3 linked regions of the Homo sapiens genome follow. The protein of the gene in region 1 purifies or fractionates together with the protein of each later gene. This does not show direct contact. Each region holds a gene or a part of one and is shown in the gene's direction. Other genes may lie near its edges.

Region 1 (4,115 bases):
TCATGTGTAACAAAACACTGTTATTTTGATTTTTTAAATCCATTTACAAATGTAAAAATCACCCTTAGCCAGGCGCGGTGGCTCACGCCTGTAATCCCAGCTCTTTGGGAGGCCAAGACGGGTGGATCACGAAGTCAGGAGTTCGAGAACCAGCCTGGCCAACATGGTGAAACTCCGTCTCTACTAAAAATACAAAAATTAGCCGGGGGGTGGTGGCATGCGCCTGTAATCCCAGCTACTCAGGAGGCTGAAGCCGGAGAATTGCTTGAACCCGGGAGGCGGAGGTTGCAGTGAGCCAAGATCGTGCCACTACACGCCAGACTGGGTGACAGAGCAAGACTCCATCTCGAAAATAAAAATAAAAATAAATTAAAAAATAAAAAAAACCACTTAGCTCACTGGCTAAACAAAATCAGGTAATTGGCCTGTACCTGACAGTCAATTTCTGGTCACTAATGATGACCACATATCCAAATTACAGTAAAGGTACCCAAGAGAGACAAAGATTAGAGATTAGTGTTACGATCCCCGTTCTGCCAGCACTAGGAGACAAGAGTTGCTACAGCCCTTCCGCGGGTTTAAAAGGCGGTCGACGTCCCTCAACCTCTTGCTATGCCTGAAAACAACCGAGTAAAAGGCATCCAAAGACCTGAGAACGCAAGGTTTCAGGAAAACAATCAGGAAGGGCAAAACATGGGGCAGCCACTACACAGCCCCTCCGTCTTAGGGCACAGGTACTAAACGGGTTGTAAGAGACCCAAGTCACATCCTTCAGAAACGTGCTGGCGCGGGCCCAGGCAGACAGGGATTCCACCCCGGCGAAGGCCGCAAATGGCGCGAGGCGGGAAGGCGCAGGCTCCACCTTCCCCCGTCCCCAGATCACCTACAGTGACCTGCGCGTACAGGCAGGCTAGGACCGCGGGCGCTCAAGGCAGACATCAGGCCCGCCGACGTCTCCGCGCCGCCCGCCCGGCCACCCGGAGAGCCTGCTGCCCAGCGCCTGGCAGCGCGGACAACCTCTCTCGGGGAGGTGATGACGGTCCCTCGCGCCGGAGGGCCCAGGGAGGAAAGAGATAAGCAGAAAGACACCAGGGAAGAACACCACGCTTCGGACCAACGCCAGCCACAGCCACTGAGAAGTCGCCGCATCCGGCGGCGCCGACACACGTTTCCAGGGCTCTTGAGAGACCATACCCTGGGAGTCTCGCGGGATCTCACTTTTCTCGGCGGCGCAGGGAATGAGACAGATCGCGGGAATTCCACCCGCGCCGGGAGATGGTCTGGTGACTTCGCGGCTCCTCCCACGTCTCTCTGGGCAGTCCGCCTTGCGCATGCGCAGGCGGCGGTGGCAAGGCTACGGTTCGCGCCAGCGGCCGGCGCTATGGGGCTGAGCCGCGTGCGGGCGGTTTTCTTTGACTTGGACAACACTCTCATCGACACGGCCGGGGCGAGCAGGAGAGGCATGTTGGAGGTAACGTCCCCACCCATGGCGCTCCTCTGGGCGGGGTCAGTGCGCCCCGCCCCGTCCTGCACGCTCACCTCCCCTTGACCCCACTTCCACCCCGGCGCCGCGGGCCGCTCTTGCTGGTTGAAACCTGTGGAGCGTGCGGGTGCGGAGGTGGCTGGAGGCGCGCGGGCCCTGCGGGTCTGCTTTCCCTGGCCTGGCGGCCGCTTGTCACCCAATCTCGAGCCCTGGAGCGGCTGCTCGCAGGTGCCTTGGCGCTCGGGACGCGGAAGGGCTCCGTGACGGCTGCCACGGTGGCGGAGGTGCCCGTGGGCGCGGGAGGCGACAGCAAAGCCGCGAGACCAGGCGCTGGTCCCGCCCCCGGTCAGACTGTCGGTGTGGAGCTCGACAGAGGGTCGTGTCCCCCATGCGACTTTCGGGGTTGCTGGGAGGAGACATGGTAGAGTTAGCCCCAGTGTTGACCCAAGAAGGGACACGGCTGTCAGTACCGAGCCTGGACTTAAGCCCTGCTTTAGAGAATTGTCGCCGCAGAACTTCTTCTGGCCTCCCTGGCGGGGTGGTGGTCACCGTGGCTTTCTGACACGTGACACAGCAAAAGCCCGTGCTGCGAGGGCATGCCCTTCCTGAGGCGCTCCTCCGCGGCACTGCCCCTCTACACGCGCGGAGGCGCTTTCAGACCTTCCCGTGTTCCAGCCCCAGTCCACCCCGGCTTCCCTTTCTCTACCTTCAGCTTCAAGGGGAAAGGGAAGGATTTATCAGATGTGGAAAACTCACTTTCAAAAGCTAATTCATCCAAACCTGAGCGCCCCGTCCTCTTCATGCTTCATCAGTTAGTTTTTGTGTCCCTGGATCTTCCACTACCTCATCCGTTTTCTTTTTAGCTGCATTCCACTCCTGCCGCATATTCATGTTTGCCCTATAGTTTTAAAAAAGCTGTAAAAAGGATGCCTCCCTTTGGGCTATTCTTCCTGCTGTAGATGTTGCCTGTCTCTCTTGACAGCCATGTTTTCCCGGAGAAATCTATACCCGTTATCTCCTTGTCTCTACCTCCTATTTATTACTAAATCCATCGTAATGTCGCTTTATCTTCACCGCTAGACTGAAATAGACTTGCTGGATCACTAGGCATTCCCAAAATGCCGGAATCAGTAGACATTTTTAAAGTCTGTCTTCATGACTTTACTGAGGCATTCCACACTTTTAACTTGTTGGCCTCCACCTCAGGGGTGCCACCCTGTGCCATATTGCCTCCAGTATCTCTCGCTGCAGATGTTACATATTTACCTGTGTGTTATTAGTAAGCTGAGTCCTGTGCATTTCAATTAAATTATTGCTTTAGGCCAATTCTTGCTGTAGGCCCAGAGTTTGGGCTTTAAAATCAGACATTTGAATATGAATCACAGCTCTCCCAAAACCTAGCTGAAAGTGCCTCAAGGAATTAACCACTCGGAGCCTTATATCTTCATAAAATGTGAATTATATTAGTCCTCAATAACCCTGTAATACTTGGGAAGCCCATGGTTGCAGTGTCCACTCAGCGAACTATAGCACCTTCCACCCTCGTACGCTGTCTGTCCACCACTGCACATGCCCCGTGCATGTCTCAGTTACAGCTGAACTCATCTCTCACCTAGACTGTTGCTGTGGGCTTGTCTCCAGGTTTACCACATCCAGTGTGTCCTCCACATTCTTGCCACAGCAATATTTTTAAAACAAAGACTAAATCGTATGCCTCCCTGGTCTTTACACCCTCACTTATAGTAGTGCTGTATTTTGTTCAGATATTTCTTAATGCATCTGTCAAAGGATATTTCAATTAATTTTGCAACTCAGGTGCCTACTACTAAATAGTGAGCTTCTTGGGAGGGAACAAGCTGTCTTAATTATCCTCGTTTGACACATGGCAAATGTTGAATAAATGCTGGATGGATGGATACAAATTTTTACTTCGAGACTTGGTTCTATTACTGCCTCCTTTATAATTACAAATCATTGTAAATAATTTATGAATGGGCCGGGCGCGGTGGCTCACGCCTGTAATCCCAGTACTTTGGGAGACCGAGATGGGCAGATCACGAGGTCAGCAGATGGAGACCATCCTGGCTAACACGGTGAAACCCCGTCTCTACTAAAAATACAAAAATTAGCCGGGTGTGTTGGCGGGCGCCTGTAGTCCCAGCTACTGGGGAGGCTGAGCCAGGAGAATGGCGTGAACCCGGGAGGCGGAGCTTGCAGTGAGCCGAGATCGCGCCACTGCACTCCAGCCTGGGCGACAGAGCCAGACTCCGTCTCAAAAAATAATAATAATTTATGAATGGAGGAAGAGGGAAAGGTCCAGCCATTTATGGCCTTGGGCTTGGGGAGAAGAGGTCATATACTGACTGTATGTATCAACTTTAATTTTTTCTAATCACCTAGGGAAGTTATTTTTTTTCTCCCTCTTTAGACCTGTTTTTCATGGTAATTACTCAAGAGGAACTTTTCTACAGAAGCCTGGAGTTTCTCAGTGAACAAAGCAGAAGAGATTTCTGCATTTGTGAATTTACTTCTTAGTGGGTATGGCAGTGAACATAATAAATATTTACAGGTGTGATAGAAAAAGCAGAGAGGGTAACAAATCAACATTTTAAATAGACTGGTCAGATTTGGC
Region 2 (4,212 bases), on another chromosome or scaffold:
TTATATATATTCTTAATATTTTTAAGCAATCGACTTTTGTGGATCTATTAACATTTTATTTATGCTGGGTAAAAGAAATTTTAGTTCTGCTTATTCTCACATTGTATTCACACAAGAACCCTTTAGTAAAGAACTTCACACTTACAGTTCTTTGGCTAGTCTGCACCTCACAGCAGTCCACTTATTAGGCAAATATATCATTTAATCAATTATTTCTCTTTGTTCAAACATCAGTTATAAAGAACTTGCAATTTAGGTATTTATTCTGTTTCAGTTTTGAAACTGAAGAAAATCCCCTTTTCAATGATTTATACTTAAAGATAGTAAAAAGAAAGTTTAAAACAATTTACTTCAATGCTTTCTCAAAATAAAAACATTATTTTGATGAAACATTATTTTCAGTCTAAGTTCCAATTGATCCACAGGTTCAGTCCACAGGTTAATTTAGTCCAAAGATCACTATGGCAAAATGGGCCTGAGCCACACAATAGATTCTGGCAGGTAATCTCTTGTGTGGCAGCTCATCCATACTTAAGTCAGCTCCCATAGCTACACAATTTGCAGGGCCCAATTCCAGACACAAACGTGGGGCCCTGGTTCAACACTTACTGAGAGAAAATGTAGCGTCCTTCTGTTCTGGGGGCCGGGTAATAGCACAGGTTGCAGGCCCATGAGGCCAGCCCCAACTATCAGATTGTGTATTTACAATGTCAGTCTAACCGTTGCTGAAAAATACTTAGCTCTGTTGTAATCAGATTTAATTTCTCAAGAGGCAAAGTACACTCAACAGTTTGCTTAAATCAGAGAGACCAAAAGGAAAGATTTGCTGTAAATTATCAACTAGCAAATCTTAGTCAGTTCAACTTAATTTTTATTGAGGGAAGAAGGGAGAAAACAGAAAACTGATGGAGTTCCCACTGCGTGTCGGCCACTGGAGATTTCAAAGGTTTCTTGTTTAACTCAAGCTACCAAGTAGGTGACGTGGATAGTCTTGGGACAGAGGAGTTGAGGGAGTTGAAATTAGGCCCTAGTTTCTACATAAGTGACACGGAAACCCTCTGCACGAGTTAAGCGAAGCTACATCTCAAGTTTATTAATGCCTCGGGTTCTTGCTGCTGGCTCTGGGAAGAGTCTGAGCACGCACAGCAGACTGATCCCCGACAAGGTGACAGGGACTAACCTAACGCCCTCCTCGTTGGTCCTAGTAACCACACAGAGCAGAAACGCGGGCGAAGGCAGGAGTTGGAGGGGGCGCCCACGCGGAGGCTGCCGGGAAGTGCAATGTGCAAAGGCGGCGGGGCCATGGAGACTGAACTGGAGAAGAGCGGGTTCTCGGAGTTAAAAGCGAGAGTGAGTGGGACCGGAGGGGCGGGGCATCATATGGGCGGGGCTGAGGCGAGGCCCCGGCGGCCATCTTGAGCCCCGCCTTTTACTTCGGCCCGCTTCTTCTGGTCACTCCGCCACCGTAGGTAAGACTGGGTTCGGGTAGAGGCCTGGACGTTGTCAGCCTTCCTGCGGCTGCGGCACGGCTAGGCGTGATCGGGGCGGACGCCGAGTCCTGCGGTGCAGGTATCCGCAGGCACGAGCGCAGAGACGGCGACCCTGGGCCTTGGGCGCCACCATCCATGACAGGAGGCCAAGGACCTTTTCCCGTGACCCGGAGCCTCGCCTCTAATCCCTTTTCCTTCTCTGAGCCTCCAACCTAGTGTAACCCGGGGCGAGCGCCCGTTTACCTACTGCCCGCTACATTTGTACAGCTTTTTCCTGTTCAGAAAGACTTTCCTAGACCCGCAGCCACCGCGCGAAAATGTGAAGTAGATGTGTACGCATTTTAAGGAGGGAGCTGGCCTCAACGCGTTACTAGCGGCCGCCGGCGCCTGGTTCGGGGGAGTGTGGACCTGCTGCTCTAGGCAGCGTCCGCGTCGGGGCACGAGCCAATGGCGCGGTCAGGAGCACTCACCTGATGGTGCCGAGGGGAGCACGTGTCTTTGGAGTTTGACAAAATCTGTTCGGGTCGTAAAATGCTCTCAGAGCGCTGTGGGGGACTGGAAGTCATTTCTGATGGGGTCATTAGGGAAATGGGATTGAGCGCACCTGGAAGGAGAGGGCATTCAGGTTGCAGGAAAAATAATAGCTCATGTTTGTGTGTGTGGTAGAAGCAGCATTTTAAGCACTACGTGAATTAACTCATTTAATTCCCAGAGCAACCCTATCAAATTGATATATATTACTGTATACCCATTTTGCAGATGGGCAAATGAGGCATAGATTAGCTTGCCCAGTGTCATGTAGTAATAAGTGGTGAAGTCAGGGTTTGAACCCGGAGGGTCTGGCCCCAAAACCTGCTCTGAAACCATTGTACCGTGGCATTGAGTAAAGCCACCCGATAGCAACATCCAGGCCATCCTAGAATTATGCATAGTTGAGTTTAACTAACAAAATAGGGAGTGAGACCAGAAAAATAATCTGGGACCAAATTATAGACCATATTTAGAGCCATGTGAAGGTGTTTGGCGTTTATAGATGCTATATTTTTTTTAAAAAATTTTCCCCAGAGTTTAATAGAAATCCTTACCTAGGCAAGCCATGTGAATTTTTATGAAGGAAAAGAGACCCAGCCTAGGCAGCATGGCAAAACCTCCTCTACAAAAAATTACCTGGGCATGGTGGTGCCACCTGTGGTCCCAACTACTCCAGAGGCTGAGGCGGGAGGATCACCTGAGCCCGGGGGCCGAGATGATTGCAGTGAGCCGAGATCAGGCCACTGCACTCCAATCTGGGCCACAGAGTTTGACCCTGTCTCAAAAAAAAAAAAAAGAAGAAAAAAAAGACTGTGTTTGCACACAGGTAGAGTGTGACTGAAGTTTATATGGAGTTTTATTCATCTATTTTTTCAGTGATCCTGCATGGTTTTAATTTTATGAAATTTTAATGGCATTAAACTTGAAGAAAATTGTACAATTAACATGGTCTTCCATTTCAGTGACTTTCTGGTTCTCAGCGACTGGCCTAACAGCGAAAGGGATTAGTAGTCTCCACCTGCAGCAGCCAGGGGGTGATGAGGCAGTTCTCATCTGCTCATTATTGTGAGCTGGCGAACTGCGTTTTTACATATGACTAATGGATACTTAACACTACTGAAATACACACTTAGGAATGGTTAAGATAGTAAATATTATGTATGTGTTTTTATCACAGTTTTTAAAATACTAAATAAAAATGACTAACAATTCCACGTAGGCCGTATTAGGCTGCAGATGAGCTGTTGGTAGGGATCCGTTGACCAGTAAATTAAGTGGATTAAAACCCTAGGCTTTCATGCAGGATTGATCGTAGTGGGATGTATTAGGAAGAAAGGAAGAGGCTAAGTTTTAATTTCTTATATATAATTAGGATGATGGCAGTGGGAATTCAAAAAGAAGGTAACTTTGAGGCATCTCAAATGTAGATTAGGCAAGACAGGCATGAGTCTGAAAAAGAGAGGCAATGAAAAGAGGAATGGTTTGAAGGTGAGATGCAGAAGCTTAATTTTAGGTGTGGTAAGTTTTAATAGCTGGTGACATGTCTTGGTAGAAGAGTCCAGCAAGAAATGTCATTATGGGTACTAATGCTTGAGAAAGATTGGTTATAGAGATGCAGATTTAGATTATTTCACCCAGAAAATGTAGTTGAAATTTAGGGAATGAGGTTTAGGGAAAGAGTGTGAAGAAAAAAGAAAAGGGAGGTGGGAGGAGACAGAGTGAAAGGGAAGAAGCCAGATCCTGAGTTTTCACTGAGAAGAGGATTTGAACAACACAGTGGTGGTCAACAGCAGTTATTGGAACTGTAGATTGTTGGTTTTGGGAACACCTGTCTAGGTTGTTAAGAGCCAGTGGAATAGGACATCCTGGAAATGAAGAAACATCAAAATCCAAGGAATCTGAGAGAATGGGAACAAAAAAACACATGTAGAGATTTATGGAAAACTTGAGACACAGGGGAAGAAGGATAAAAATAGAACTCAGATTTCTGGAGGTGGATGACATTTAACTTTAATAAGTAAAGGGCCCTGTCTCTACAAAAAATTAAAAAAAAAAATATTCCAGTGTGGTACGCACCTGTAGTCCTAGCTGCTCAGGAGGCTGAGGTAGGAGAACACTTGAAGCTTGGAGTTCTAGGTTACACTGAGTCATGATTATGCAACTGTACTACAACCTGGGCCACACAGCCAAG
Region 3 (3,500 bases), on another chromosome or scaffold:
AACAGTATGATGATGATGTCTAATTTGTTGGGAAATGTGTTTTTAAAAAAGGCAGATCATGGACCTAAATTATTTCTATGTGACAGGGTCGCTTGTCAATCAAAAATTGCTAGACTTACAATGAGAGAAGGAAATGTGAATAAAAATGAGCTAAAGACAACAGAAACAGCCACATGACTTACCCGATGGAGTTACCAGACATGAGCTTTAAAATAACTATATTTTTGTATAGGTGAAAGATGTAGAATTTCAGTACAGAACTGTAATAAACTGTAAAAAAGAGCCAAATGCAAATTCTAGAACTAAAAATACAATTGGAATTAAGGCTCAATGGATGGGTTTAACAACAATTTAGACACATTTGAATGGCGAATTAAGGAATTAGAATGGGGATTAGTAAACATTTTCTGTAAAGAGCCAGATAGTAATTTTTTTTTAGGGTTTATAGTCTATACAGTCTCTGTTAACACCTGTTCAAGTCTGCGGTAATAGCAAGAAAGCAGCCATCAACTGTGCATGAATGAATGCTGTGGCTGTGTCCCAGTAAAATACTTTATTTGCAAAAGCAGATGATGGTCTGGATTGTGCTGACTTCTGAACTAAAAGATAGGTTAGAAGAGAATATCAAAATCAGGAATGAAGAGACACAGATGTGTACACAGATGTACACAGAGAGGCAACTTTTGCAAAGGAAAATCATTTCTAGTTTTGTTTTTTTTTTTTGAGATGGAGTCTCATTCTGTCACCCAGGCTGGAGTGCAGTGGCGCAATCTCAGCTCACTGCAACCTCCGCCTCCCAGGTTCAAGCAATTCTTCTGCCTCAGCCTCCCGAGTAGCTGGAACTACAGGTGCGTGCCACCACATCCGGCTAATTTTTTGTATTTTTAGTAGAGATAGGGTTTCACCATGTTGGCCAGGATGGTCTCGATCTCCTGACCTCATGATCCACCCGCCTCAGCCTCCCAAAGTGCTGGGATTACAGGTGTGAGCCACCGTGCCTGGTTCTAGTTCTTTTTTATTCACTAAGATGACATAGATTCTTTCAGTGCTTCCACCAGAATGGTGATTATTTTTATAAAGAAAGAAACAATTGTCTTGATTTTCAGACCATGCATGGAATTTTGGAGAGAAGCAAATTTTGCAAAGATATGACGGTAAAGTATGACTCAAGACTTCGGGAAAGGGTGAGTAACTTATTTACATATTGTTCTTCCCCATAAATTATCAGTAAGCCACCTCAGTTTGTCACTTGGCTAAAAGTTAAATGCATTTCTGCTAGGGATTTCGAATCAGTGAAAATATTTAAGAATCTACCATATGACAGTCACTGTTACATACCCTCGTATATAGGATCTTATTATTAAAATCAAACGAGACAAGCATCTTAAGGTATAAAAGAAGGTACGCTCATAAGAACTTAACACAGTATAGAAGAGTTTAAAGTAAAGGTGAAAAATATGGATATTGCATAATTTATGTAACCTAGCTACGCTGATGGAAAGCTAGATTTTCACTAGACTACCACTGATGTAAATAATGTCAAAATAAACATCTTTGTAGTTAATTTATTGTAGACCTATATATTTCTAGAAATGGACATCGGCGAGTGTGTACTTTTTTAAAGGCATTTATATACATATTGCCAAGTTGCCTTCCAGAAAACCTGTGCCAATTTATAGTCCCATGAATGACCTAGGAGAAAGTTTTGTTTTTTTACACCAACAATTGGTATTATTAGACTCTGTGATTTTCCAATTTAATAGCTTAACAATGTTGCCATGTGGCTGGCGTGGTGGCTTACGCTTGTAATCCCAGCACTTTGGGAGGCCAAGGTGGGCAGATCACTTGAGTTCAGGAGATTGAGACCATTCTGGCTAACATGGTAAAACACCATCTCTACTAAAAATACAAAAAATTAGCCGGGTGTGGTGGCACGCGCCTGTAGTCCCAGCTACTCGGGAGGCTGAGGCAAGAGAATCGTTTGAACCCAGGAGGCGGAGGTTGCAGTGAGCTGAGATCGCGCCACGGCACCCCAGCCTGGGTGACAGAGCGAGATTCCGTCTCAAAAAAAAAAAAAAGAAAAAAAAAGAAATAGATCTCTCATGTTAGCGTCTCTGAAACTCAACTTCCTTATAACTATGGTGATATATTTATTTAGCTATTTCATGGTGCTGTCATTGGGATCAAATGGTGTAGTATGTGTGGATGGGAGATGGCTGAATTGGTACCTTGTGCATGTTAATCTCTAGTCCTATAATCTGTGCAAATCTCTGTATTTGTTCAATAAATTCCCACCATCTGCTTGCAATAGCAAGTTCTTCTAAAATAACCCATTTGGACATAGTGTACAACTTAAGATTTCAATTATATTTTCTAAGGTTCATGGCCCTCTACTGAGTACATTCTCATTATCAGTTCAGAGGAGATAGAATCAATTAAGTGGAGGAGAGTTAGCTTATTCCTGGGATGAATGTTCTAAATTTGCCATAAACATAAACTTAATTGTTATATTGCAATTTCATTTGAGAAACTGTTATCTATTGGACTGTTTCAGAAATACGGGGTTGTAGAAGGCAAAGCGCTAAGTGAGCTGAGGGCCATGGCCAAAGCAGCCAGGGAAGAGTGCCCTGTGTTTACACCGCCCGGAGGAGAGACGCTGGACCAGGTATGTGGCGCTGCCGATGTCAGAATGGTTGAATTAAGACTCAAAATTAGATGTTTTGGAATTTTAGCTAAGCAGTTTGAAAGTTGCTTGGTTCATTCTCTTTTCCATTTTAAATTATCTATTTACTTAGCAAATTATTCTTTTCTATTTAAAATCTTATTTACTGTTCAGTTGCCTTTGTCATTATTGATAATGGACTTAAGGAAAGGTGTTATTAGATGGTACTTCTAAAAAAGACCTTTGAATATGAAGCAGTGGCTTAGTGGTGGGAGTGGAGTTCAAAGAGGGTGATCGGCAAGTCACTCGAGGTGAAATAACTCAAAACATGAAGTCTTCAAGCCTCTGCTGCCTCCTCAGCTCTGTTCATGGTGGCATCCCTGTGCTTGCATTTCTTTGGAGTGTTCTGCTTCGAATTGCATATTGGTGATTCCCCCTAACCCACCACCACCTCCTTAATCTTTATCTTAATTTTCTTGAAAATACTTTCCATTACTTTAGTAAGGGAAGGATTTGTTGCTGCTGTTGTTCCAGTGGCACTGAAGTGCCAGAGACAGCTTCCTGGTTAGCACTGTTTTATGAGTTTCTGTTGGCTTGTAGATTTCCCTAACTAGACCGTGAGTGCTTTGAACTCAGGAATTGGGAATTGGATCTTCTTCATCTTGGTCTCCATGGTGCTTTTGTAATTCCAGAAATGTGGTGGATACTTATATATGTCCATGAAACTACTGATTGAACGAATAGAAATGTAGATTGATATTCTTCTGCTTGTGTAGTACTTGGCATTCAATATTAGAAAAAAATCCAGTCAGTTATGTTCTATGTTAACGTTTTAAGG

Evidence for each region.
Region 2: the proteins of NANP (region 1) and ESD fractionate together in Homo sapiens (co-fractionation; one large-scale study listed by BioGRID). This does not show direct contact.
Region 3: the proteins of NANP (region 1) and TIGAR fractionate together in Homo sapiens (co-fractionation; one large-scale study listed by BioGRID). This does not show direct contact.

Annotation. Positions count from the first base shown.
Region 1 is NC_000020.11:25,621,215-25,625,329, reverse strand, and holds the start of NANP (N-acylneuraminate-9-phosphatase), read left to right. Parts: upstream 1-1,315; 5' UTR 1,316-1,381; coding exon 1,382-1,471; intron 1,472-4,115. UniProt on the Homo sapiens protein: Catalyzes the dephosphorylation of N-acylneuraminate 9-phosphate (Neu5Ac-9-P) to N-acetylneuraminic acid (Neu5Ac or sialic acid). Can also use N-glycoloylneuraminate 9-phosphate as substrate.
Region 2 is NC_000013.11:46,794,362-46,798,573, reverse strand, and holds the start of ESD (S-formylglutathione hydrolase), read left to right. Parts: upstream 1-1,412; 5' UTR 1,413-1,469; intron 1,470-4,212.
Region 3 is NC_000012.12:4,348,713-4,352,212, forward strand, and holds part of TIGAR (fructose-2,6-bisphosphatase TIGAR), read left to right. Parts: intron 1-1,106; coding exon 1,107-1,184; intron 1,185-2,554; coding exon 2,555-2,665; intron 2,666-3,500.